Regions from separate parts of the Homo sapiens genome. Here region 2 is linked to region 1. A link means that fine-mapping ties the variant in region 1 to the expression of a gene that starts in the linked region. Tissue or cell type: whole blood. Region 1 holds a variant in brackets; the other region holds the start of a gene. All regions are shown on one strand. Distances are between the middles of the regions.

Evidence for each region. PIP is the estimated chance that this variant, and not a neighbour inherited with it, causes the effect.
Region 2: GOLGA7 starts here. The variant in region 1 is fine-mapped to the expression of GOLGA7 in whole blood (TOPMed, PIP 0.98).

The regions. Positions count from the first base shown.
Region 1 is chr8:41,441,181-41,449,363 of GRCh38, forward strand. LOC124901938 (a long non-coding RNA gene) reads right to left here and starts at 1,760. Exons shown (of 2, transcript XR_007060897.1): 1 at 1,417-1,760. The variant G/T (reference allele first, on the strand shown) is at 3,730.
Region 2 is chr8:41,487,244-41,495,426 of GRCh38, forward strand. GOLGA7 (golgin A7) reads left to right here and starts at 3,339. Exons shown (of 5, transcript NM_001002296.2): 1 at 3,339-3,722. The coding sequence starts at 3,612. RefSeq lists a silencer at 2,970-3,229 and enhancers at 3,280-3,409, 3,700-3,809, 3,860-3,969.

The DNA.
Region 1 (8,183 bases):
CTTTTCTCACACAAGGAGCTGGAAATTCTACCAAGCCTCTGATCTGACACCAGAGCCTAGTTCTAAACGTTCCCTGGGTCTGCCCCAATGGTATACACAAGCCCTGGGAAGAGGAAGAAACAGCTTATGATTGCTGTGTCTTCCCCGACGCTGGAAAGAATGGTGTTCCTTGATCCCAGTGCTTCCATGACCCTGATGAAAGCCTCAGCCCTGGATCCCAGAGTGATCGCCTAGAGCAAATGCTTGAGTGAGATTTCAGCTCTTCTCTTGCCAAGATGTGGCTTTTCAAGGCTGGGCTGCCAATGAAAATGTCAACAATGCTCAGATCAAGAGGAAAATGCTCATTTCACCCTCAGAGGGCATCCAACATTCCAGCAGATCAGTGGTGATCCAAGGTGCCCTTTGTTGATCAGGGCAGAGAATACATTTCCTTTCCCAAGACAGAGCAGTCCAGTGTGGTTAGTAAATGGGCCAGCACCAAAGAGGCTGCATGCAGAGTGGAAGCTGAGGCAGGTGATGCCCTCCTTCCTCCACAGAGAGGCTTAGATCCCTTAGAAGAGGCAACTGGTCTTGGGGACATATTCTGAGTCTCTCCTGAAGCAATGGAAATGGGATCCAGCTTTGGAATCTGATCCCCTCCCTTGCAAATGAAACTTGGTTCCAAGGAGCAACCAACTGAACAAATCCCAAATGCCAGACATTGAAACAATGGCAGAATTAGCTAGAGGAGAGCTAATGTCCCTATGAATCTAGCTAGCCCTAAGCCCAAGCCTCACAAGTCAAAATATAAATGAATTATCTAAAACTAAGAGACCTGATTGCTGAATCTTGATTAAGATGAGCATTCAAGATGAGGATACTGAATGTGTTGAAATAGCCAAGGGAGGGCTGGGCTTGTTTCAACTAAGGTGTCTACGTGCCTTATTAACATTACTAACAAAGGAGAAAAAAAGATGTTAAAAAGTAGCAATGATGCAATAACTGGCTTTGAGTGATTCTAGAAAAGGAGCAGGCATTTGCTTTGAAATGAACTCTCAGAATTAGCTTGTTCTTCCACAGGATCATAGACTCGTCTAGTTTTGTGTTTTCCAGACTGTGCTGTGAGGAGAACAAGCAATTCCTGAGAGATCTCAGGCTCCATCCTCCTACCCTGCCTGAGCTGAAGAAGCTCTTTGTGCCCCTTCTGAATATGATTGGGTTTCTGAGTAAGAAGTTGTTGGGAGAAGTCGTTCTGCTGCTTTGTATCGGATAGGACTCTCAGTTGTGAAAGACAAAGACCCTGATTAACACAAAATTCATTTAGGCAAAAGTAGTGTCACACATAAACTGAAAAGTTAAAAGCTGTGAGCTTCAAGCACAGCCAGATACAGTGGCTTCTTTGATGTCAGTGGGGCTGAGGGAGTCTCTGTTTCCTACCTTGCCTCCTTCTATGTCAGCTTTATTCAGGCAACCTTCCTTCCCATGCGGTGGCAAGATGACCATCCGGCGGGTTCAGGCTTCCAGCCGGTCATCTCAGAAGCCCAGTGGTTGTCCTTCCCGATAGCTCTCTATCAATCAGGATTAGGTTAAGCTGCCAAGTAAAAGAAAACTCAAAGTGACAACAGTTTAAACAAGCTAGAAGTTCATTCTGTCTTACATAAACAAAATCCCAAAGTAAGCAGTCCAGGACTGTGTAGTTCCTCCACAAACATACATACGCATGCATGTATCTTTATGATAGAATGAAGGAGAATAGTGCTACAATGAACATACGCATGCATGTATCTTTATGATAGAATGATTTATATTCCTCTGGGTATATACCCAGTAATGGGATTGTTTGGTCAAATAGTATTTCTGTTTCTAGATCTTTGAGGAATTGTCACAGTGTTTTCCACAATGGTTAATTAATGGTTAAATTAATTAATTTACATTCCCACCATCAGTGTAAAAGTGTTCCTATTTCTCTGCAACTTCACCAGCATCTGTTGTTTCTAGACTTTTTAATAGTTGCCATTCTGACTGGCATGAGATGGTATCTCACTGTGGTTTTGATTTGCATTTCTCTAATGATCAGTGATGTTGAGCTTTTTTTCATATGTTTTTTGGCTGCATGAATGTCTTCCTTTGAGAAGTGTCTGTTCATGTCTTTTATCCACTTCTTAAAGGAAAACCCCCGTCTCTTAAAAAGAAAAAAAAAATCCTTGGTCAAATGTAATCATATGCCCACACCTAGTTGTAAGGGAGGCTAGAAGTGTAATCTTTGTTCCTGGAAGATATAAACCCAGCTAAAAGTCAAGAGTTCTGTTACTAAGGGAGATGGAGAAAATGGATTTTGGAGGGAGACTAATAGCATCTCATCTGCCATGTTAAACTAATAGTTCCAACAAAAGTTTTCTGGGTTTTTTTGTTTGTTTGTTTTTGTTTTTGAGATGGAGTCTCACTCTGTTGCCCAGGCTGGAGTGCAGTGGCGTGATCTCTGCTCACTGCAACCTCCATCTCCTGGGTTCAAGTGATTCTCCTGCCTCAGTCTCCCAAGTAGCTGGGAATACAGGTGTGCGCCACCACACCTGGCTAATTTTTGTATTTTTAGTAGAGATGGGGTTTCACCATGTTGGTCATGCTGGTCTCAAACCCCTGACCTCAGGTGATCCACCTGCCTTGGCCTCCCAAAGTGCTGGGATTACAGGCGTGAGCCACCACACCTGGCCAAAAGTTCCAGAATTTCAGACTTTAATCATATGTCCATTCCTGAACCAATTCTTCTGGCCAGATAGAGGAAATACAAAGATTTATCAGGTCTGATTCTTCTGGCCATGCCTAATCCTAGACAGAAAGGATGCTGGGCAGATAGAAACAGCAGAACACTCTCACTCCAGTGTAATCTCTTAATGTTTTTATTTTTCAGCTGCAGAAACTGAGGTCCCAAAAGGTGAAATGACTTGCAATGGGTACATAGTGATTACTTCTGGGGCACAAGATCAAGACTCCACTTTATTGCTCTCCACTATCAGTCAAATATATTTCATAGAAATGTGAAATGAAAGGTCTGTAATTTACACCATATTTGGCTGAACACAAGGATTTCCAATAAATTACTCCTAATTATTTTAAACCTTTGTGAAAATTACACCTAACTTTTTAAGCTCGTGCACAGTTACATAAATAAAGAGAAAAATAAGATGCCTTGCTTTCTTCCTTTGATGAATCCTAATTAGCTTATACCTGTGTTTTCAACCACCGTGAGCAGAAGTGTCAACATCTTGGAACACTCTCTTCCTCCTTCACCCCTCTATCCCTCCTTTCATGAAGCTGCTTGCCAAGCACTGGTAGACAAAGGTGAGAGAGGGTCCTTTCCCTCAAAGGGCTTACATTCTTAAAGGAAAAACAAACAGGTAAACAGACAACGCCCTGGTAGGAGGCCAGGCACTATGGCTCATGCCTGTAATCCTAGCACTTTGGGAGGCCAAGGCAGGTGGATCACTTGAACCCAGGAGTTCAAGACCAGCCTGGGCAACATGGTGAAATCCCATCACTACAAAAAAAAATTAGCTGGGTGCAGTGGCACACCTGTAATCCCAGCTACTCAGGAGGCTGAGGTGGGAGGACTGCTTGAGCCTGGGGAGGTCAAGGCTGCAGTGAGCCAAGATCACACCACTGCATTCCAGCATGGGTAACAGAATGAGACCCTGTCTCAAAAAATAAATAAAATAAAACAAGGTAAATAGGTTTGCATGCTTAGGACGTCAA[G/T]AACAGAGTGGGGGATCTCACTGTCAAAGCTTCACAGGGAGGCAATACTTGAAAAGCCAGCGCAGGCAGGAAAGAGCTTGGGCATAGAGATCAGAATATGCAAACACACATATGCATAGGAGGAAACTACACGGAGTTCAGTATGGCTGGAGCTAGACTGGGAAGGGCATGGAGGAAGATAGGGCAATGAAGAGAACAACATGTCAGATCTGGAAGGTCTTTGTATACCTTGCAAGGCGATAGCTGGACAGTACCATTGCTTACCTAGACCAGTACCATTGCTTACCTAGACCAGTACCATTGCTTACCTAGACCTGAGGAGACAGAATGGCTTCAATTAGTTATCAACCTAAAATTAAAGTTAAAATAAATGCTAAGTGTCAGGGGCAGTGGCTCATGCCTGTAATCCCAGCACTTTGGGAGGCTGAGACAGGAGGATCACTTGAGGTCAGGAGTTCAAGACCAGCCTGGCCAACATGTGAAACTCCGTCTCTACTACAAATACAAAAATTAGCCAGGCATGGTGGCACATGCCTGTAATCCCAGCTACCTGGGTGGCTGAGGCAGAATTGCTAGAACCCATGAGGTGGAGGCTGCAGTGAGCCAAGATTGCACCACTGCACTCCAGCCTGGGCGACAGAGTGAGACTCCATCTCAAAAAATAGTACATAAATAAATAAATGAATAAATAAATGCTAAGTTCCCAGGCAAGTTCCAAAGCAAAGGAATCCTGTCAATTTATTCTGTGATTGTCTTCCCTGAAGTCTGGTTTTGCCAAAAGCACTTGGGGGTGTGGGGGAGAGGGAAGATGGAGGAAGAAAAGTCAAGTTGATCCTCATTATTCACAGATTATATGTTTGCAAATTCTCCTACTCACTAAAATTTCCTTGTACTCCGCAAGTCAACGCTCATATATTGGTGTTCATGTTCATTCAAGGAAACCTGCACAACAGTGAGAAATTCAAGCTGCCCAATGCCCACATTCCCAGGTGTTGAATAAGACAGCATTCTGCCTTCTTGTTTCAGCTCTTACTCTGTAAATAAATGCTCTTTTTGAAGTCATTCTAGTGCCACGTTTTCACATTTTTGTGCATTTTTTTGGTGATTTCACTGTTGCCCCCAAGTGTAGGGCTGAAGTACTTTCTAACACTACTAAATGCAAGAAAACTGTGATTTGCCTTATGGAGAAAATACATGTATTAGATAAGCTTTGATCACGCATGAGTTCCATGTTAATATTCAATGGTCATTAAACAATTACATATTAAATAAGGCAACTTTAAACAGAAACACATATAAAACAAAAGTTACATACTGATTGGTTGATGAAAACGCTGCGACCAGAAGCTCGTAGGAACTTAACCCTGTATTTCTTCCAGGAGCAGTGGTTCAGTGTTCACTAATTCAGTGTCCACTGTGACTTAATAGAGCATAACTACTTCAAATAACAAGAACTATATATCAAGTGCCATTTTACTCTTTGATGTGTTTGATTTTGAAAGAAAAGTTATTCAATAAAATTAATATAAGGAAAGATTGCATGGGTTTTTTAAGTTGTCTTTAAACATGCAGCCTGAATCTGGATTCGAGGTTCATGGAAGGTGCTACATTTTGGGGAAAGTGGAGGAAGGCCTAAAAGGTTCTGTTCCTCTAAAAATATACCTCTCAGAGTTCATGACCAGCCTGGACAACATAACAAGCCCCTGTATCTACAAAAAAGTTTTTTTAAAAATTAGCCAGGCATGGTGGTGCACACCTGTAGTCCTAGCTACTCCCAAGTCTGAGGTGGGAGAATCACTTGAGCCCAGGAGTTCGAGGTTACACTGAGCTATGATTGTACCACTGCACTCTAGCCTGGATGACAGAGTGAGACCTTGTCTCTAAAGGTAAAAAAATAAATAAACAAATATATAAACCTCTCAGTTCCTATCCCACCTATCCTGACTTCTTTCTGTCTACCTTGAGGAAAGGAAAATAAACAAGTTCCCAGAAAAAGCATCAGCAAACTTCTAAATGAATATAACCAACTCCTCTCAGGAGATGGAACAGGCTCAGTGATCACGTGTCTTGGGTTTCCTGGCATGCTCCTGGTTTCACATATTCTGTGCCATTTCTGCTGTGAGCTTACTTGTATCAGACCATGTGTCCTGACTTGGAATCCAAAAATACAGAGATGCAGTCTTTAACCACTTCTATGCACAACAACCTCCAAGTCCCTGGAATGACATGGTGCCTGTCTTACCTCCCAAACCTATGCAGGCCAAATCCTAGGTCCCCCACCCCCATCCCATGCAGGTCAAGTCCCAGCCTCCCCCCATCTCATGCAGGTCAAGCCCCAGTCCTCCCCCAACCCAGACACAAAGAAACACACTGAGTAACTGTCACCTCCCCATTCATAGCTGATGGTGCTCCCAGCTTGTCCCCATAACCCACCCACATGTGCCCACACCACAGGACACCACGGGTCTCCCTCCACTGTGCCAGAGAGGAACACAAAGCAGCAGAGACTGACGCTGAACCCGAGCTCTCACCTGGACCCCCCGACAGCCTCTGCACCAACCTTACTCAGCCTTCCACATCCAGCCTTGTGACAAAAGGCACATGCAGAAACTCTGCCTTGACAACCTTGCCAGTGGGTCATCCCAGTTCAGGTAGAGCTGCCAGGGGTGCCAGACTGAAAGGGCAGACAGCAGGAGTGAAGTGGACAGAGGCAGAAAGGAAGGGGACTGGCACCTGTCGAGCACTTGGCATCGGGCCAGGCGCTGTGTGGCACTTGATGTATCAGATGTCACTTAATCCCTGCCTGAGGATAATCCTCACTGCACACAGAAGGAAACTGAAACTTAAAAGAGTGAATAACTCACCCAGGTCACGGCTATTAAATCCAGAAGAAGAGTCAAACCCCACGTTCACTCGATGCCAATCTCAAGTGATTTCCACCTCATCAGGTCACTTCTGTTTGCTTCCACAGAAAAGTCAGGACCAGGAACTTTGTGAGAATTCAGCAACAGGGATTATGAAAGTGCTTTAAGAATGAAGTTTGCACAAACACAAAAGGTTATTATTAAAAGAAACCCCAAGGGATCGCCCACATTTTCTCAGTGTCCCAGAATCTGGTTGTATCAAATGCTGCTGCCTACAGGGGAAGACTGGGCTTGACTGTGCTTTTGGTGTTCCAGGAATTCAACTTCTGGGTGTAACTCTATTTAGAGGCAGAATGTGTGAGAAGCCCCTGACATCCACACCTGCGCTCGTCATCCTTGCTTAGTACAGGGGCACAGGACCTTCAAACGGAAGCCTTGATCTTACTGGGTCTCCAATTTCATTCTGACCCCTGGGTGCCCAGCCAGCAAGGACCAAGACCTCCTGGTCTTGGTGCCTGGCACCTGGTTCTGGTGCAAGCCCTGGAATCTGTGCTCCTCTCAGTTAGCAAGCCTTTTCCTAACCCTCCCAGAGTGCACACGACAAACTTCAGCCTGGGTTTTCTGCTTTGGGCTCCAGTTCTCCTCACTGATTGAATCTTTTCAATTAAAAATCTCAGAATTTAGCTAAGTATATGAAACCGATGAGTGGAGCCAAGGACCCTCCAAGAGCAGCCTGCCCCCTTGTGAACTGTCTGAAAGATAAATGGAGGAGTCTCTTCTGGAATGAAGAGTAATCGTCAGTGTGGACAGCACCATGCCTCTAAACTAAGACCCCACTCCTCAAGCTTTAGAATGCAGTCATTCGGATTAGGGTTCGGAGCTCCACCATCCACTAGCTGTGTGACCGGGGCAACTTGTTTAATCTTGAGAAATATCATTTTTCTCCTCTGAGAAACTGGAATCATCACCTCTGCCTGACAATACTGTTGGATGGATTATGTGAAATCATGAATATAAAACATGTGGTTCAATGTCCGCACACATAGAAGGTCCTCAATAAATAGAAGTTTAGATAGGTAGGTAGGTAGGTAGGTAGGCAGGTAGGTAGATAGATAAAGAGAGAGATTAGAGATAGGGTCTCACTCTGTCACCCAGGCTGGAGTGCAGTGGCACCATCCATAGCTCACTGCAGCCTTGAACTCCTGGGCTCAAGTGATCCTCCTGCCTCAGCCTCCCCAGTGACTGAAACCACAGGTGAATGCCATGACACCTGGCTAATTTTAAAATTTTCTGTAGAGACATAGTCTTGCTATGCTGCCCAGGCTGGTCTCGAACTCCTGAGTTCAAGCGATCCCCCTATCTCAGCCTCTCTAATTATTGGAATTACAGGCGTGAGCCATTGTGCCCAGCCCAAACAGCAGACATTGATTTAAATGACAGGAGAATGAAGACGAATCGTATTCTCTTGACCACTGCCTGCATGAAGATGTCTCTGACTCCCCCGATGGGAAAAACCATGGCCCCTCCCTTCTGCCTTCCTCAGCACATTGTCAGGTCCTCATTTGTGTAATTTTCATGTCCTGACTTGTA
Region 2 (8,183 bases), 46 kb after region 1:
CTGTTTTACTTTTAATGGCAAAACTAGAATCTAGACACATGAGTGTGTTTAGGGATGAGGGAAGACGATAACAATACAGCTCATCGTCCTTTGATTCCTCTTTCACCTGGGATCGATCCTCTTCCCAAACATGAAGAGGGTTTTCCTTGGGTTATATTTGCCCTCAAATTTCCTCATTCAAAAATAATCTGTTTGCTGGGTGCAGTGGCTCACGCCTGTAATCCCAGCACTTTGGGAGGCCGAGGCGGGTGGATCACGAGGTCAGGAGTTCAAGACCAGCCTAGACAACACGGTGAAACCCCGTCTCTACGCAAAAAAATACAAAAATTAGCTGGGTGTGGTGGCACGCACCTGTAATTCCAGCTACTCGGGAGGCTGAGGCAGGAGAATGGCTTGAACCCAGGAGGCGGAGGTTGTGGTGAGCCGAGATCGTGCCACTGAACTCCAGCCTGGGCGACAGAGTGAGATCCATCTCAAAAAATAATAATAATAGTCTGTTTTACCACCTAGTCTCAGTGGCCAAGGGCTGCAGGAAAATACTCCAAATATACAATGTATGAAAATTGTTTTCTTCGTTCACTCCATTAGACTGAAATTTTGAGGGTAGAGACTGTTTTACCTGTTTAAGGGTGTTCTCAACCCCTAGTAACAAATATGTAGAAAACCAGCTCCTAGGAGATCTTACTGAGTTAGTAAGGAAGCATCAACTTCGGAGACAAACACTAGTAGACATTTAATTCAAAACAGGATCAGATCATGAAACGGAATAGAAAGTCCAAAACAGGCAGACAGAGGGACAGACAGACAGACACACACACACACACACACACCACTGATTTTCTTTTTCTTTTTTTTTTTTTTTTTTTTTTTGAGACAGAGTCTCGCTCTTTAGCCCAGGCCGGAGTGCAGTGGCACTATCTCCGCTCACTGCAAGCTCCGCCTCCCGAGTTCACCCCATTCTCCTGCCTCAGCCTCTCGAGTAGCTGGGACTTATAGGCGCCCGCCACGGCGCCCGGCTCATTTTTTGTATTTTTAGTAGACACGGGGTTTCACCGTGTTAGCCAGAATGATCTCGATCTCCTGACCTCGTGATCCGCCCGCCTCGGCCTCTCAAAGTGCTGGGATTACAGGCGTGAGCCACCGCGCCCGGCCCCCACTGATTTTCAACAGAGATACAAAGGCAATTCAGTGAAGAAATGAGAGTCTTTTCAACAAATGGTACGTAAACAACTGAATAACAACTGCATAATCATACGGGGGGAGGGAAGAGTTTCACTCTATACCTATGGGAGGCAGAAATGCCCTCCCCAAGAGGTCCACACCCTAATCCCCTCAAACCCCTAACGTGTTAAGAGAGTAAAAAGACAAATCACAGACTGTGAAAAATGCATGCAAATCACATATCTGATAAAGGATTTTTCTCCAGAATGTATAAAGAACTCAAAACTCAAAAACAGCCCGGCCAAGTTCTCACGCAAGTATAAAGGCCTCAGGAAAACATCTTTAAACATACAAAAATCCAAGAATTAAAGTGCCTTAAAAATTTAAAACTGACCTTAAGCCCAGCCAATAAAGATGTAAATCAAAACAAAATAAAACAAAAAACCCCTCAACAACAGGAAAATAAAATACAAACAAAAAAATGGGCAAAAGTTTTAAATAGACACTTCACCAGAGAAGATACATGGATGGCAAATAAGTACAGGAAAATATGTTCAAAATAATTAGTCATGGAAAAATGAAAATTATAGCTGCAGAAGATATTACTACCCAAGTCTTGGCAAAGATGTGGAGCAACTGGAACTCTGGTGGGAATGCAAAATGGTGTCACCACTTTGGAAAACAGTTTGTCAGTCTGCCAAAAAGTTAAACGTGTTTTTACCGTACAATCTAGCCATTCTACTCCTAGGTATGTACCCAAGAGAAATGAAAGCATTAAGGTCTACACACCTATGCAAAGACTTGCAAATGAATGTCCATAGCAGCTTTATTTGTAACATCCCAAAACTGGAAGCAATCCAAATGTCCATCAACAGATGAATGGATAAACAAACTGTGGGATGGCCATACAATGGAATAGCTATCCAGCATCAAAAATAAATGAATTATTGATAACACAACAACAGATGGACTTCAAAATAGTCTATGTGAAAGAAGCCAGGCAAAAAAAGGGGGTACACACTATATGATTCAATTTATATAAAATTCAAGGAAATGAAACTAATGTTGAGTGACAGAAGGTGGATCAGTGCCTGGGAAATGGGGTCTGGGAGAGGCAGGAGGGAGAGATTACACAGGAGCTGGAGGAACCTTTTCAGGGCAATGGAGCTTTACTATCTTGATTGTGACAGTGGTTTATGGGTGTATTCATATGTCCAAAGTTATCAAATCCACTGCTTTAAATGTGTGGTTTATTGTATGCCATTTATATCTCGAAAAAGCTGTTTTTAAAATACAGTAAGAGAATTTTTCATATTTAAAAGGCAGGATATTTAAACTATATTAAATATATAAAAGACAGTGGTACTAACAGGTTGTATTAGCAGGAGACAAGGGTAAGGTGGGGTTTCTTTGGCTGCCTTGCAAAGAAATGCTGAGTCAAGTAAGGGCCAGTGGGCAACGAGGGCGGAACCACTTGTCCCCTTGGTCACCTGAGGGATGTGGATGGGAGCTGGGTGGAAATGGGGGGTGAGAGGAACGCCGCCCCCAAAGAAGAGTCGGGGCAGGGGCGCCCAACGCTGGGGCCCAGGCAGGTTCTTCGTCCTCACTTCCTGACCCTTTCTCAAGAGTCTAGGGACCAAATGGATCCATCCTTGGAGCCTGCTTTCTACTTCTGAACACAATGAGCAGTTTGTGTTTGAGGGTTTGGGGAGGGGGTGTTGTTTTTTCTTTATGTTTTGTTTTTTGTTTTGTGTATGAGTTGGGTGGCATAACCCACACGTAAGCTGCGACGTCCAATCAAGAACGAAAATGACCCCTCACAATCAGTGATCGGGAACCACCTGCCACAATCACTAGGGAAGTGACACAGCCGGGAAACTCCGCCCCTCACACCCCCGCGCGCTCGCGCCGGCCGCAGCCCCACAGCTCGCCCCGGCCGCAGCCCCACAGCTCGCCCCGCCTCTCTCCTTCCGGAAACAATCCCCGCGCGGGCGGAAGGCGGGGTCGGCCCTGGCCCCGCCCACATCATTTCCCTTCCTCGGCCCAGCCCCACAGCGCGCAGCTTCGGCAGGGTGGCTTTACGGCCGGAGGAGAGGGTGGGTCCCAGACCTGAGGTAGGAGGCCGAGCTGAGGGGCGGGGAAGAGGCTTTTTGCGGCAGGACGTAAGTGACGGCGAAGGCGGTGCGACAGCAGCTGGAGGGCAGAGGAGGCGGGTTTGTGTTTCCCGGGCCGAACCGGGTTGTGGGGGGCGCGGGGCCTGGGCCAGGCGGCAGCTAAGGCCCGCGGTGACAGCATGGGTGAAGGGGAGCGGGGCAGAGGAGGCCTTGGGCTGTTTTCGGCGGCGGGTGGGGGCGAGGGGCTGGCGGGTCAGAGTCCCGGGTCCAGGCCGGGGCTCTGACTCGCGGTTGGTGTTCCCCCGACCCCGCAGCGCGGGGTGTCCTGTCCTCGCCATGAGGCCGCAGCAGGCGCCGGTGTCCGGAAAGGTGTTCATTCAGCGAGACTACAGCAGTGGCACACGCTGCCAGTTCCAGACCAAGTTCCCTGCGGAGCTGGAGAACCGGGTACGCAACCTGGCTCCCCACGCCTGCTCTGGCGAGGGAGAGAGACTCACCGGGGACGGGAAGGGTGTGGGCGACAACCGGGCCTTTGAGGGTCCCGCAGTTCTGGGGAGGTCCAGGCACAGAAGGGGCCTTGGCCAAACGTGTAAGAAGAGAGCCACTAAGCAAGACAGGTGTTTGGAGCAGGAAGAATAATATAGGCCGATCGCCGGGGTTGACGACCTTATGGAACTTTGTTGCCCGGTGCCGGGAATCTGGATCCAGCAGTGTTCCCCTGCTGCACTCCCCCAAATCCCCACCCCGGGTTATTGTCGGCAGCGATGAGGAGCCAATTCCTGAGGCTCCAGGTCGTCTCAGTCACCAGGTTGTAAACTATATCCTCCTACCTCTCCGCGCAAGATAAATCATCATCATTCTCGTGACTGGTGTTTGCTGCCTCTGTGCTGGCCGCACTGTTTGGCTGAAAGGGTTTATTAGGTGCATGGCCAGGCGGTGCGTTCAGGCTTTCTTGGAACCTTAAAGACGTCGGGCGTTAGATAGGCCTGGACAGGAAAATGTCTCAGAACAAGGCCTTAAACTTGTCACATTCACTGGGAGCCACCTGTTTTGTCTTGCATATCAAAATGGTCATCAGGATATAGGTCCTTTGGGCAACATTGCAGGCAAAAATGGAAGAATGGGATTTGCTTCCCCTTCAGACCTAGCAAAACTTTAAAAAAAAAAAAAAAATCATTGTATCTTGTTGTAGAGGTAATGGAGTGTGTGCGTGCCTGCCTGTGTTTTTGTGTGCCCACATATGTACATTCAACCAAAGATTCTTTTGGTCTTGACCCATGTTATGTAGATTGTGTTTCCCGTTCAGGGATCAATTTCTGGTTAGCTGGAAGCAGGTTTTGTGGCTCTCTCCTCTGTGACAGGGAGGACGAGGGCCTGAGAGGTGATTAGGCATTCCTTGGGTGTGGGACTGAGAGATGCTGGTCATGGGATAAGTGGGTGTGGATGAGTCTGTGTAGAGAAATGTGTAGCAGTTATTTACAGTCAGTTTGCAGTGAGGTGGGTTGCACTGCCCGATTTCCATGGTTGGGAAATCAACAATGATCCATTATAGTTTCCTTCAGTTTGACATAACCATGGGCAGCTTCATGGCCCAAATATGTTTCTTGAATTGCAAATGGATCAAATATGCCTTTAAAAGATGGTGAGGTGACTTGTTTCTGAAATGCCATTTAAATGCTGCAGTATGTTGTCAACTATGTTATGAGTTAACTGAGCGTGACAATAGGTGGAACTATCTACAGTGGTTTGAAGAGGTAGAAATTCAGCAAGTGGCCAGTTGGGTAGAGCTACTGAATGTTGTTTTAAAATAATTTAACATCACAATTGATGTGTTTTACATGTTAAGATTGACATGGAATCTGGCTGGGCCCGGTGGCTCACGCCTGTAATCCCAGCACTCTGGGAGGCCGTGGCGGGTGCATCACTTGAGGTCGGGAATTCAAGACCAGCTTGGCCAACATGGTGAAACCCCATCTCTACTAAAAATACAAAAATTAGTCAGGCATGGTGGCGGGCACCTGTAATCCCCGCTACTCAGGAGGCTGAAGTAGAAGAATTTCTTGAACCTGGGAGGCGGAGGTTGCAGTGAGCCGAGATCATGCCATTGTACTCCAGCCTGGGCGACAGAGCAAGACTCTTGTCTCAAAAAATAAATCAAATAAAAAGATATACATGGAATCAATCAAATGTTTTATTTTTAAGCCTCTTACGGAAACTATGACATACAATTTATGTACTTCAAAATCAGAATATAAAGTATTCTTTTTTTACCACAATTATTTGGACATTAAAGATTCCTTTGCTTTAAGGTTTTAAAGCAACACTTACACCTCATATATTTGAGCTAAATGTGTATACACAGAATCAGACATTAGCCTTCCACTCTGTGTGTGGCAGAGCCTTTATTTTGTAATCTAAGTGCAAAAGCACAATGTAGTTACTGTGCTCCACTGATTCTTGTCAGGAAATTGATGTTTCTAAATTCTGGAGTCCTTTTACCTCTTTGACTCTGTATAGCCCAGAACTGCTTGTGGTACTGAGTACTATATGGAATGTTACATGGCACTCTTCAATTGTGCCTTTGAATTTCTTTTTTCTTTTTAAATGTTTGGGTTAAAACACTAGCTTATGCTTTAAACCACTAGAAAAGCTTTGATTGTCTGTGTATGTGTGTTGAGATTAAATTTAAATTACAGGTTTAAACTTTCCTTGCTTTGATGAAAAATTGAAAGGTTTCTGTTTCTCTACTACTTACCCTAGAAATTTTACTGATTGCTCTGCTATTGGAGCTGATTTTCCTTTTGTGAGAACATCACACTTGGCAACATAATAGAGAAAGTGACTAATATGCAAGTGTTTTGTATTATTTTAAAGCATTTTTTAAAAATACACACACATTTGTGCCCTTTAATTTGGGAGTAGGATAGGTTCTGTCTGTTAACAAGTTCATTTTCTCTGCTGCCTTTTAGAATGTAATACTTTGATGCTTAAGCGATTTGTTGCCAGAACAATTCCTTAAAGGAAACTTTATTCTCATTAGCCTTAAAATACAGATATCTTAGTTACCCTTGGTCTGGGTAGAAGAATGAGTGAACTGTAATTGAGGCATTTTTTCCCTTTAAAAATATGTCTCCCCATCTGGTTAGTAATTACCTTTGACCTGCCACCCTTGATACGTGATCACTGCATGCTTCACCATGCTTTCTACTGTGTAGTTCACAGTAATTCTGGGAAAATAAGCCTGATTTCTCTTTCCATTCTGATTTTTGATGTTTGTGGGTCCAAATTTTATTTGGCTGTGACTTCTCATATATCTAAATTTTGATAGAGCTCCTGTATCAGTGTCCAGGAACCTAAGGGAGAACACTGGCCACTGTTATTCATAGCCTAAAGGTAGTAAGATACAAATGCCAACATTTGTTCTCTTGAGCCCTTTCTTGTGAAGTTTGTCGTTTGCCTTTATTGATGCCTTCTGTGATTTTTACCCTTTATTTCCCTTTTTTAAAATAACCTTTCAAAAACTTGTTGGCATTTACTTTTCTTTAACCATTTATCCTTTCTTTTTCTTTTTTTATTAACCTTTTTTTGTTTGTTTGTTTAACTGACGTATGATTTACCTCTAACCTATAGGGCATTGTAATCTCGGAATAACGCATAAGAATTAAGTGTTTCTGGCTGGGCATGGTGGTTTGCACCCAAGTAATCCCAGCTGCTCTGGGGGTTGAGGTAGGAGTATCCCTTGGGGCCAGGAGTTCAAGACCAGTCTGGGCAACATAGCGATACTCTGTCACTAAACTTAAAAAATAATAATAATTAGGGTTTCCGGGATAAACAGTAATTCTGATATGAAAGAAATAAGATGTTTCTGGGTTGAATCCCATGGTTTTGAATTGTATTGTAAAGAAATATAAATAATTCAATGACTTATAACATAGGCACATCAAATGTGATTGGAATTATTTAGACTTTTGTAGACTTATCGGTGGACAAACTGAAGGCATTAACGTAGGCATAATTAGGTGAACGTAACAGCTTACCATTTTTGTTTGCTGAGCTCTCCTCAGTCTGTTTTCGTGAATGAGAACTCACAGTTTCCCAGATGACCAGCCTTGACACCACATCTACAAGGGGTAGCTCAGTGAAGAAACACTGCCCCTGCGTTTAAAGGCCGTCTTGACCCACCTAGCCTTTGTCCAAATCTCTAATATTCCTGGAAATTTAAAGTAACTCCTTTTGAAAAATGGGTAGAGCCAACACCACTTTAAAGTTTGCATTAAATTCATGCATGCCACTAGCCCATTGACTCCTCACATTTTCCACACAACGGACAAAACAATGACTACAACTGCTTCTAACTTAAAGAGTTGTCATAGCTTAAGGATGGTCATGAATTGTTTTACACTTTAAAAGATTATGTTCTTGAGGCCAGGTGCAGGTGGCTCTTTGGGAGGCCAGGGGGGTGGATCACATGAGGCTAGGAGCCTGAGACCAGCCTGGCAACATGGCAAAACCTCGTCTCTACTAAAAATACAAAAATTAGTAGGGAATGGTGGTGCACGCCTGTAATCCCAGCTACTCGGGAGGCTGAGACACGAGAATCACTTGATCCTGGGACCAGAGGTTACAGTGAGCCAAGATTGCGCCACTGCACTCCAGCCAGGGTGACAGAGTGAGACTCTGTCTCAAAAAAAAAAAAAAAAAAAAAAAAGATTACATTCTTGGGAATAGTGAATAGTAGGGCTCATACTGTATGTTGAGGGTTTTTTTTCTTTCTTTCTTTTTTTGAGACAGGGTCTCACTCTGTCACCCAGACTGGAGTGCAGTGGTGAGATCTCAGTTCACTGCAACCTCCACTTCCCAGGCTCCAGCAATCCTCCCACCTCAGCCTCCTGAGTAGCTAGGACTATA